Homo sapiens: one gene and its partners. The protein of the gene in region 1 purifies or fractionates together with the protein of each later gene. This does not show direct contact. Each region holds a gene or a part of one and is shown in the gene's direction. Other genes may lie near its edges.

The links.
Region 2: the proteins of TOP2B (region 1) and GLYR1 fractionate together in Homo sapiens (co-fractionation; one large-scale study listed by BioGRID). This does not show direct contact.
Region 3: the proteins of TOP2B (region 1) and CHAF1A fractionate together in Homo sapiens (co-fractionation; one large-scale study listed by BioGRID). This does not show direct contact.

The regions. Positions count from the first base shown.
Region 1 is NC_000003.12:25,619,757-25,623,407, reverse strand, and holds part of TOP2B (DNA topoisomerase 2-beta), read left to right. Parts: intron 1-2,591; coding exon 2,592-2,726; intron 2,727-3,345; coding exon 3,346-3,546; intron 3,547-3,651. UniProt on the Homo sapiens protein: Key decatenating enzyme that alters DNA topology by binding to two double-stranded DNA molecules, generating a double-stranded break in one of the strands, passing the intact strand through the broken strand, and religating the broken strand.
Region 2 is NC_000016.10:4,830,287-4,833,937, reverse strand, and holds part of GLYR1 (cytokine-like nuclear factor N-PAC), read left to right. Parts: intron 1-1,025; coding exon 1,026-1,164; intron 1,165-1,716; coding exon 1,717-1,959; intron 1,960-3,651. UniProt on the Homo sapiens protein: Cytokine-like nuclear factor with chromatin gene reader activity involved in chromatin modification and regulation of gene expression. Acts as a nucleosome-destabilizing factor that is recruited to genes during transcriptional activation.
Region 3 is NC_000019.10:4,423,006-4,426,656, forward strand, and holds part of CHAF1A (chromatin assembly factor 1 subunit A), read left to right. Parts: intron 1-329; coding exon 330-390; intron 391-800; coding exon 801-869; intron 870-3,651. UniProt on the Homo sapiens protein: Acts as a component of the histone chaperone complex chromatin assembly factor 1 (CAF-1), which assembles histone octamers onto DNA during replication and repair.

The DNA.
Region 1 (3,651 bases):
AGACCGTAAAGACCTAATTAGGGTATAATTTGATATGTGCCTACAGTAAAAAGTATAAACTTTGGAATGAGTTTTGGAGGTAAGTTTCATGGGGAGAAACTGTTTATTTAAATTTAGAAACACCTCATATTCCAGGTTTTCAAACCTCTAAACCCTATATTATTAGAAAACAATCCTTTTCTGATAAAATTATGTGTAACCTTGTTTCTGTTCTCAAACTACCGCTTAATAGTTTGTAAGGATGCTTAAAAACACATTGTATTCATTAGTGTACCATTTGTAAAAAGACAGAAAACAAACTACCTTGTATATATTTTAATATATCCCCAAGGCTGGGCGTGGTGGCTCACACCTGTAATTCCAGCACTTTGGGAGGCCAAGGCATATGGATCACCTGAGGTCAGGAGTTCGAGACCAGACTGACCAACATGGGGAAACTCCATCTCTACTAAATATACAAAAAAAATTAGGTGTTGCTCAGGCTCACGCCTGTAATCCCAGCACTTTGGAGGCCGAGGTGGGTGGATCACCTGAGGTCAGGAGTTCTAGGCCAGCCTGACCAAACCAGGTAGAACCCTGTCTCTACTAAAAATACAAAAATTAGCCGGGTGTGCTGGAGGGCACCTGTAATCCCAGCTACTTGGGAGGCAGAGGCAGGAGAATCGCTTGAACCCAGGAGGTGGAGGTTGCGGTGAGCCGAGATTGCGCCACTGTACTCCAGCTTGGGGAACAGAATGAGACTCCGTCTCCCAAAAAAAAAAAAAAAAATCCCCATTTTTTTTTTATGTTTGTTGTTTTCTTGTATCATTCACTCTGCTCAGACCTCCTCCAAGAAAAATGTCCTTCCTTCCTCCCCATGATTTAAAATTACCTGGAGAAAAGTGTATTTTTATTACCAAAATGATAATGTTTATTGTAGAAAATATAGGTAAGCAAAGAGTAAAAAAATCCATAAACCCACAATATAGAGACAATATTTTGATGTATTTTTCCAAGTTTTATTTCATTTTTGTATTTTAAAGTGAAAGTTATTCTTTAGCAATAAGACATATATTCTGCTTTTTCTCTTAAATACTTCAAAGTACTTCAAAATATTTCTAACATAAGCATCAAATTTTTAATGATAGTGTTTTACTGAAATGGTTTTGGATTTTTAAATGGATTTTAGATTGTTAAGATAGTGTATTTGATCAATACATGGTTCTTATGTGCCTACTATGTGTATGAAACTGTGCTAAGTGGTGAGATAAAGAGCTATGGTTTTTATCTTTGAAAAGTTAAACAGTTGTCAAGACAAGACATCAAAGCATCAAGGCTTGAAGTTTAACAGTGACAAACGATATTGATAGTTGCTTGGTATGCCAGAAGAAATGTCCTATGCTATATGCTCAATTTCTTTCTTTCTTTTTTTTTTTTTCTGAGACAGAGTCTCACTCTGTCACCCAGGCTGGAGTACAGTGGTGTGATCTTGGGTCACTGCAACCTCTGTCTCCCAGGTTCAAGTGATTCTGCTGTCTCAGCCTCCTGAGTAGATGGGGCCACAGGTGTGCGCCACCATGCCTGTCTAATTTTTGTATTTTTAGTAGAGACGGGGTTTCACTGTGTTGGCCAGGCTGGTCTCGAACTCCTGGCCTCAAGTGATCCGCCTGCTTTGGCCTCCCAAAGTGCTGGGATTACAGGCATGAGCCACTGTGCCCGGCCTATATACTCGATTTCTTAATGATAATAACGAATAAGAATTTTAGAGTAGGCCAGGTGCAGTGACTCATGTCTATAATCCCAGCACTTTGGGAGGCTGAGCTGGGCAGATCACTAGCTCAGGAGTTGAAGACCAGCCTGGGCAACATGGCAAAACCCTGTCTCTACAAAAATACAAAAATTAGCTGGACATGGTGGCACGCATCTGTAACCCCAGCTACTTGGGAGGCTGAGGTGGGAGGATCCTTTGAGCCCAGGTGGTTGAGGCTGCAGTGAGCTGATATCGTGCCACGGCACTCCAGCCTGGGTGACAAAGTGGAGACCCTGTCTCAAAACAAATAAAAACTTAGAAGAGGGAGAGAGGACTTGTAATTCAGTTGGGAAGGATGAGTAAGATTTATGTAGATGAATGATGAATGGAATGGGGTTGGGCCTGAATATGTGTCAGGACTTGTGGATAGAGTGAAAGTGAGAATATTCAAAATAGTCAAACAAAATATGGGAGAAGAGTAGTGGTTTTGTAAGACAAATCATTAGAGAAAAAATTGAAAGCCAGATTGGGTCCAGACTATGAAATGCTTTCAATGTAAGGCCCAAGGAGTTTGAATTTAAAGGATATTGATCTAGGAGAGAAGTAGGTGTAGGGGAAGTAGGCTGAAAGAAAGTACTGTTCTAGGAAGACTAGGAAAGATGATACTAACATTTTGAGATTGGAGGATGTTCAGGTTGTATGAACAGAAGCTATGAATTCAAGCTTAATTGATCAGTTGGAAAGGGACAATTGAGGATGAGAAATTCTGTTTCAGTTGTGTTAATCTGTCAATGTTAGACCATAGACTCATGGTACTGGTACTCAAGAGAGAAGTCAATGCTATTTACCTTTTTCTCTACAGCTTCCAAACTACAAAAACTTTAAAGGCACGATTCAAGAACTTGGTCAAAACCAGTATGCAGTCAGTGGTGAAATATTTGTAGTGGACAGAAACACAGTAGAAATTACAGAGCTTCCAGTTAGAACTTGGACACAGGTCAGTGTAAATATGTGATCTGCCTGAGGGAAGGGCAGTGTATTAAGCAATTTTTTCTGGTAAGGATGATTCCACCGTTGTTGGTCCTAAGCGTGCGTAGTGTTAAAAAATTCCTGTACCTTCTTTTACCCTTCAGTTGAATTTGTGCTTTGAATATTTAAATAGTATTTATATCTAAGTAGCGTAGTATGACTTATGTTAGGTAAGGCTTTTATAGACTATTATCTTTGTATTTATTTAAAATAAAAGGAGTAGAATATGACAGTGTTTTTAATTCTTGTAAATATGGTCAGTAAATTCATGTCAGCATCAGCTTTACAAATCTAAAAGTATGCATGTCACCTCTTGACAGTTCCAGTTGATGTCATCCTTTTCATACTCAGCCTTTATCTTGCCCTTTAGAGTATGAGTGGGTCAGCACCATTACTTCTTATGTCTTTTCCCACCACCGAGATCCCTGTGTATTGCCTTCTATACTGATTGGATAGGAGATGATAGAGATTGAGGTTTCCTTTTTAATTCCCCATGAGAGTTGAGAATTTTCAAGACTGTATGACTTGTAGTATGAGAACATGAGAGTGTGTCATGAAAAGAATCACTAATTTTTAAATCTTTATAGGTATATAAAGAACAGGTTTTAGAACCTATGCTAAATGGAACAGATAAAACACCAGCATTAATTTCTGATTATAAAGAATATCATACTGACACAACTGTGAAATTTGTGGTGAAAATGACTGAAGAGAAACTAGCACAAGCAGAAGCTGCTGGACTGCATAAAGTTTTTAAACTTCAAACTACTCTTACTTGTAATTCCATGGTAATTTATTAGATTTACTGTTAATTTAATCTTTCTTGCATGGTATAAGTCGGATTATTATAATTGGTTTCATGATGGGAGTGGCTATAGTAAGCCTGAAGGCAT
Region 2 (3,651 bases), on another chromosome or scaffold:
GAAACCTGTATCACAGGCTAAAACATGTAAACTAACTGATACCTTGTAAAGCCTATAAAATTATTTTGTGCTTGGATTCTATAAGCTGCATGCCATTCAGGGAAGCCATAGAAAGCCAGCTGCAGCAGATTTGTTCAGGTTAGTGTGACAGATCAGAAACCCCAGAATTGACAGCTGACTACTTTCACTTTCATGTGTTACACATTGATGGTTGAAATTAAAAATTACATATCGGAGGTGTATGTTCTTCTACCTTTAATCTCAAGCATCTTGTTTCTATTTTTTTTTTTTTTTGAGACATCATAAAACAGCATGCCATCTTGTTTTTAAATGCCTCCTTTTGTAACTGCTGCCCTTATTCCAAACCATGTGTTCCGTGTTTTGTGTGGTTTAGTAGCCATGGTTACCATCATTTATGAACAAATATAGGCTCAGTGGCTGTGAATATCCATAGGAACCACAAATTTTAGAAGATGTTGCATTTCTTCAGCTCTGTAACATCCCTGACTCTCTGTGGATCAACAGATCATAAATCTGGTTCCCATTGTTGACAGGCAGCAGGCATTTTCCTGCATAGTAATGCTGCTATCATCTATCACATTTCCAGGTACCCTGATTCCCAGGGATCTGTGTGTGGCCATTTGTGCTGCCTGGTGAGAATGGGAAAGGGTCTCCAGATTTCTTTCTGCCCTGAGCAAGTGGCAGCGTATATGTGGTTGGGCATTGGAGGCTGATAGACGATTGTGGAAATAAATAATCTGCAACACAGTGCTTTCACTGGAGGAACTTGATTTGTGGTTGCTGCAGTGGTGGTGATGGTTGTTCTGCTTGACTTGTTTCAAGAAAATATACTTTAGACATAAGACTCTGAGATGGTTGATAGCATGTTTTGAAAGAAATGGCAAGGCCTATTGCAAAGTCCAGTTAAACCAAATGGATATTTACACCGTGCCATAGTGAGGTTGTTGATACTTTAGGGCATATGCTATATGGTTCACACCCTTTTTGTGTTTGTTTTCTGCTAGTGCCTGGATCAAAGTGGAACAGCTGAAGCCATATCATGCTCATAAAGAGGAAATGATAAAAATTAACAAGGGTAAACGATTCCAGCAAGCGGTAGATGCTGTCGAAGAGTTCCTCAGGAGAGCCAAAGGGAAAGACCAGGTGAGAGACACAATGTTCACTTTCTACCAATGCCAGACTGGTGATTTTTGCATAGCAACTAACAGATTAAATGTCACCCAAACGCAAACCTTTGTTCTTCTGAAATGCTACTGGAGAAAGCTACTTCAGTTCTAAGGTGTCAGCGTTTTGCTTATCAGTTTGAAACTCCATGCAGCTAACCTTTCTGGAGTAGGTTGTTGCTTTTAGGAAAATTGCTTGGACCCAGGAGAAATATCTCAGCATTTGAGTCTAGCACAGGCCATTTCTTCCTTTCATAGCACACAGATTAGGAGCATAGCCTCTGAAATACATATACTGCCTAGATTTAAATCCTTTCTTCTAGTTTTGGGACATAGGGAAAGTGACTTTTGATATATATATTTTTTAAATCTGCTTCTCCCAATGTCTGGGACGACAGCAGAATCTATTTCTAGGGTCATTGTGAGGAGACCACACAGAGTGCCTGTAGCAGCACATGGCACCTGTAAATGATGGTGGCGATGGCGGCAGCAGCTGTGGTGGTAGTTATCATTATTATTATTAAACTTTCAGACGTCATCCCACAATTCTTCTGATGACAAGAATCGACGTAATTCCAGTGAGGAGAGAAGTAGGCCAAACTCAGGTGATGAGAAGCGCAAACTTAGCCTGTCTGAAGGGAAGGTGAAGAAGAACATGGGAGAAGGAAAGAAGAGGGTGTCTTCAGGCTCTTCAGAGAGAGGCTCCAAATCCCCTCTGAAAAGAGCCCAAGAGCAAAGTCCCCGGAAGCGGGGTCGGCCCCCAAAGGATGAGAAGGTTTGTTTTCTCTCTGCAGCTTCCGGGATTAGTGATGTCCTTTTAGTACAAGGTAGAGTTAAGCTCTACAGTATGCTTATGTAGTATGCTTATCTATACTCTGCTCATGGAGTGGGAGCAGAATTCTGTGCTCAAGAATCCTGCAGGGCAGGTGCGGTGGCTCATGCTTTATCCCAGCAACTCAGGAGGCTGAGTCAGGAAGATGGCTTGAGCCTTGGAGCTCAAAGTTGCATTGAGCCGATTGCACCACTGCATTCTAGCCTGGGTGATGGAGTGAGACCCCGAATCTTATTTAAAAAATTAAAAAATAAAGAATCCCATAGACCAGGTGAGAGACACGGCCTGGATGCAGGTGTAAAGTAGGAGCGCGAGGCAGGAGAGCAGTCCACTTGAGCCGGTGCACAAGGGCTGGCCCTGGGAGGGGCTTAGCAAGAAAGAAGGGTAGGCATTCCAAAGATGGAGGGCACAGCCCGTGTGAGGCTCGGTGCTGGTGGAGATACTCTCGAACAGGGAGAGGATAGTGAGGAAAGCCGAGAAAAAGGAAGCTTGTCCCTGGATCGTGGAGGGCCTGAAGGTCTACTGAAGCAGCGTGGTACTAAAGCGTCTTGGAGTCAGTGGGGGCCCGGGAAGGTGACTGAGCCAGTGGCAGTGTGTGCCTCCCGTGTGTGCACCAGTAGTCACCGAGTGCAGAGGGGAAAGTCTCAGAGCCAATTAGGAGGTAAGTCTAGGCGTGCATTCATAAGGGGGTAATTGCAAATGTTGCAAGCAAAGAGGTGAGAGGCACTTCAGAGGAAGAGTTCTTAAGATTCCATAATTGGTTATATAGAGGATGAATGAGAAAAAGGAAAAGAGGATTTCCATCTTCATTCCTGGGAAAGTGGTCATCACTTTCTTAAAAGTAGAGGACTGGGGATGTAGAGGTGGCTTGTGGAGAAAGAGTACCAGTTCTGTTTGGAATGTCAAGAACTTGAGGCAAGGCCTAGACAGCCTGGGAGCTTGGTGTGACCTCAGGACTAGAAATGTAGATTTGGGAGGTGAATTTGTAAAAGGGTAGTTGAGTCCGGGCAGTGGAATGGGTTTGTTTCAGGAAGAGAGGGAGAAGAGGGAAGCGCGGAGGCCTGCATTGCCACAAGAATGCCGTGCTTGGGGCAGGAAGGAGCAGGAGGAGCTAGCAAGATGAGATAAAGCAGTGAGAGTGCCTCTCTCGCCTTCTTGCTGACAAGATTTGGGGCCGGTCTTACAAGGCCACAGAGAAGAATTTCAAAGTGAAGGGGACTGTGTCAGGAACGCGGTAGGATTGTCAACAGCAGGATAAAGAGAACAGAAGCCAGATGGCTGGCAGCAACAGTTGGGTGACGAGGCCATGATGGAACATTAGACCTTGGATCAAGGCTCAAAAATTCAGACACCAGCGAGCCCAGGCAGGTAATGGAAGCAACTGTAGCTGACTGGACCTAAGAAGCAGTGGCACGGGTGCCAGGCACCCCAGCTGACCTGCCTTGGTGCTCAGAGCAGCAGGGCTGGCCATGGTCAGGGAGTCTGGGGAGGTCATGCTCTGTCCACAGGGTTCTAGCCAGCTTCTGCCAAATTGTCTGTTTTTTCTCAAGAGAAGCTGGGAAGGCCAGTTGTGGTGTCTCATACCTGCAATCATAGCACTTTGGGAGGCTGAGGCAGGAAGATCACATGAGCCCA
Region 3 (3,651 bases), on another chromosome or scaffold:
CCCTGGACCCCTTGTCTCTGCTGTGACCATCCTTCCAGTTCCCAACCAACTTAGGCATTTGCATTGCAGGATTGTGGGTTTTGTCTGTGCTAATTGTGCTCTGACTGGCTAAAGTTTTTTATATATATTCTAGTCACAGGAAGAATTTTATTGACTGTTTTCCATTTTTATTGTGAAGACCTATGTAAAAGCCTTATACTAGACATGAAAATAACTTATATTCATTTAATGTAAAATGAAATACTTGCCATATACTAACAGTTGAGTGCTGCGGTCCCTTCCAGAGCCAAAGCAAAGAGTCGGCTGAAATGTCATTTGCTGTCTCACAGGGCTAAACTTGAGGAAAAAAGGAAAAAGGAAGAAGAGAAACGGTTAAGAGAAGAAGAGAAGGTAGAGTGTTTCCCACAGAGCTTCCCCGTCCCAGCCCGTTGGAGAAGCAGATGCCCAAAGTGGAATTCTTGCCACAGCCGTCACCTAATATTCTCTTGGTTTGGGGAAACCAAATGGCGCCCGCAGGGAGGGCGAGTCTGTCTAGATGCGTTCTTGTTGCTTCTTCCCAGTGCTGGCTGTCACATGCCTACTGGCCCTGCAATCCTGGCACTTCTACCCACAAGGGCAACTTGGACATTTTGAGATTGGCTGGCTCAGTTGCGGGTCCGTGGGTTTTGAGAGCTGAAAATCACAGTAGTGCCTTCAAGCTAAAATGCTTGACGTTCGGTTCTGGGGGCCTTTGCATGTTTTGCAACACATACTGTTCCTCTTCCTCTCCTCTTTCTCATCACCATCTCTTAACATCACAGCGCATTAAAGCAGAGAAGGCCGAAATCACGAGGTTCTTCCAGAAACCAAAGACTCCACAGGCCCCCAAGGTGAGCAGCCGGCTGCCTTTGCTTTTGGGTTTCAGCTCTGCTAGACTTTTCCTTTCTGAAAGTGAAAGGGTCTCTCCCCAGCCAGCTTCTCTCATTAGGAGGGAGGGAGCCTCCAGTGACCTAGGGCACTTCCATTTCTGGTTAAGTCTTGAGGCTCAATATTTTGTCCTTCGCTTTGTCCCAAAGAGGTAAAAAGTGGCATGTCTGATTAAACAGTGCTGTTTTCAGAGGTTACTTCATGAATAATTTTGTGTTAGGCGTAAGAGAAATTCACCATGTTTTTACCCTTGGGAAACTTAGGCTTAAGGAGGGAGCACGTTTAGCTGTAAAACAACAGTACAATTCACAAAGGTTTACTTTCCCTGCCTGGCGTCGGTCACCTGGCATCTCAGACCTTCTGAGCCACCATCTGTGCATGGAAACCACAGCCCTCCTTCCCCTTTACCCAGAGGGAGCCCATCTCCAATGTTAGGGGTCCTTCAGTGCCTTTCCCTGCTCCACTCACTGTATTTATACACATGTGTACTTAGCTATCTCAGATTTGTGCCATGTTGCCACATTTAGATGTATTTCATTCTTTTTAATGTATCTGGCCTTTATTTATTTTTTGAGGCAGGGTCTCACTGTCACCCAGGCTGTAGTGCAGTTGCACAATCAAAGCTCACCACAGCCTTGACCTCTCAGGGTCTGGTGATCCTGTCACCTCAGCCTTCCCGAGTAGCTGGGACTACAGGCATGTGCCACCATGCCTGGCTAATTTTTTATTTTTATTTTTTTTGAGATGGAGTCTCACTCTGTCACCCAGGCTGCAGTACAGTGGTGCGATCTCAGCTCACTGCAACGTCCACCTCCCGGGTTCCAGTGATTCTTCTGTGTCAGCCTCCCAGGTAGCTGGGATTACAGGCACATGCTACCACACCTGGCTAATTTTTGTATTTTTAGTATAGACGGGGTTTTACCATGTTGGCTAGGCTGGTCTTGAACTCCTGACCTCAGGTGATCCGCCCGCCTCAGCCTCCCGAAGTGCCGGGATTATAGGCGTGAGCCACCGTGCCCGGCCTAATTTTTTAATTTTTTTTTGTAGAGACTGGGTTTTGCTATGTTGCCCAGGCTGGTCTCGACGACCTGGCTTCAAATGATCCTCCAAACCTCGGCCTCTCAAAGCACTTGGATTACAGGTGTGAGTCCCTGCACCTGGCCTGTCCTTTTATTTGTATGTTGAGACATTTGATGGCAATTGTGTATCCTGAAGGTGCACAATGTGACATTGTTGTACCTACACATCATATTGTGACAGCCAGAGATCCACATCATGTATTTTCACTGCCGCATAATACTTCATAATGCAATGATATGGTTTCTCTCTTTTTTTACAAAAATTATTTATTTATTTAGAGACGGAGTATTGCTCTGTCACCCATGCTGGAGAGCAGTGGCGCTATCTCTCGGCTCACTCTAACCTTTGTCTCCCGGGTTCAAGCAATTCTTCTACCTCAGCCTCCCGAGTAGCTGGGATTACAGGTGCCTGCCACCACTCCCAGCTAATTTTTTGTGTTTTTAGTAGAGACGGGGTTTCACCATATTGGCCAGGCTGGTCTTGAACTCCTGACCTCAGATGATCTGCCCATCTCAGCCTCCCTAATTTTATTTTTAGTAGAGACTGGGTCTCACTGTGTTGCCAGGGCTGGTCTCGACCTCCTGGTCTCAAGCATTTCTCTCGCTTTGGCCACCCACCGTGCTAGGATCACAGGCATGAGCCACAGAGCCTGCCACTATCTCAACCTCTTTGCCCCTCAGTGGTGTAGGGGGGGTCCCTGCACATGCTTCTCTGCACACATGCATTCCTCTGGGACAGCCAAGTAAGCATGAGTTCACCTCTAGGACAAAATAGCATATTGCTGAAGCATCATGAGCCATGGCCAGAGTGCGTGCCAGATGGGAAACTCAGATGTACATTCCCGGCGATGTGTGGAAATTTCCTCCCCATTCTCTGCTATCACTGCAATTTTTATGGGATTAATTTTCTTTTAACTTTGCCAGTCTGATGGATTTTTAAAAATTGACATTGTTTTACTTTCCATTTTTACTTGACTCTTGGTGCAGTTGAGCATCTTTTTCTGTTCGTTTGCCATTTTAGTTCTTCTATGACTTGCCAATTCCTATTTTTTTACCTATTTTTCTACAGGATTTTCTTTTTTTTTCTTTGCCTGATCTGTAAGTTTTTTTTAACATAGTCTAGTATTTCATTCTCCGTGATATTTCGTCTCAGCCTGTTACCTCTTTGTTTACAGTCTTTTTTTTTTTTTTTTTTGAGACACAGTTTCACTCTGTTGCTGAGGCTGGAGTGCAGTGGTGCCATCTCGGCTCACTGCAAGCTCCACCTCCTGGGTTCACACCATTCTCCTGCCTCAGCCTCCCGAGTAGCTGGGACTACAAGCGCCCGCCACCATGCCCCGCTAATTTTTTGTATTTTTAGTAGAGACGGGGTTTGCACCGTGTTGGCCAGGATGGTCTCGATCTCCTGACCTTGTGATCCGCCCGCCTCGGCCTCCCAAAGGGCTGGGATTACAGGTGTGAGCCACCGTGCCCGGCCTTTGTTGTTTTTTGTTTGTTTGTTTTGAGACAAAGTTTCGCTCATTGCCCAGGCTGGAGTGCAGTGGCATGATCTCAGCTCACCACAACCTCTGCCTCCTGCGTTCAAATGATTCTCTTGCCTCAGCCTCCCGAGTAGCTGAGATTACAGGCATGTGCTGCCACGCCCAGCTAATTTTGTATTTTTAGT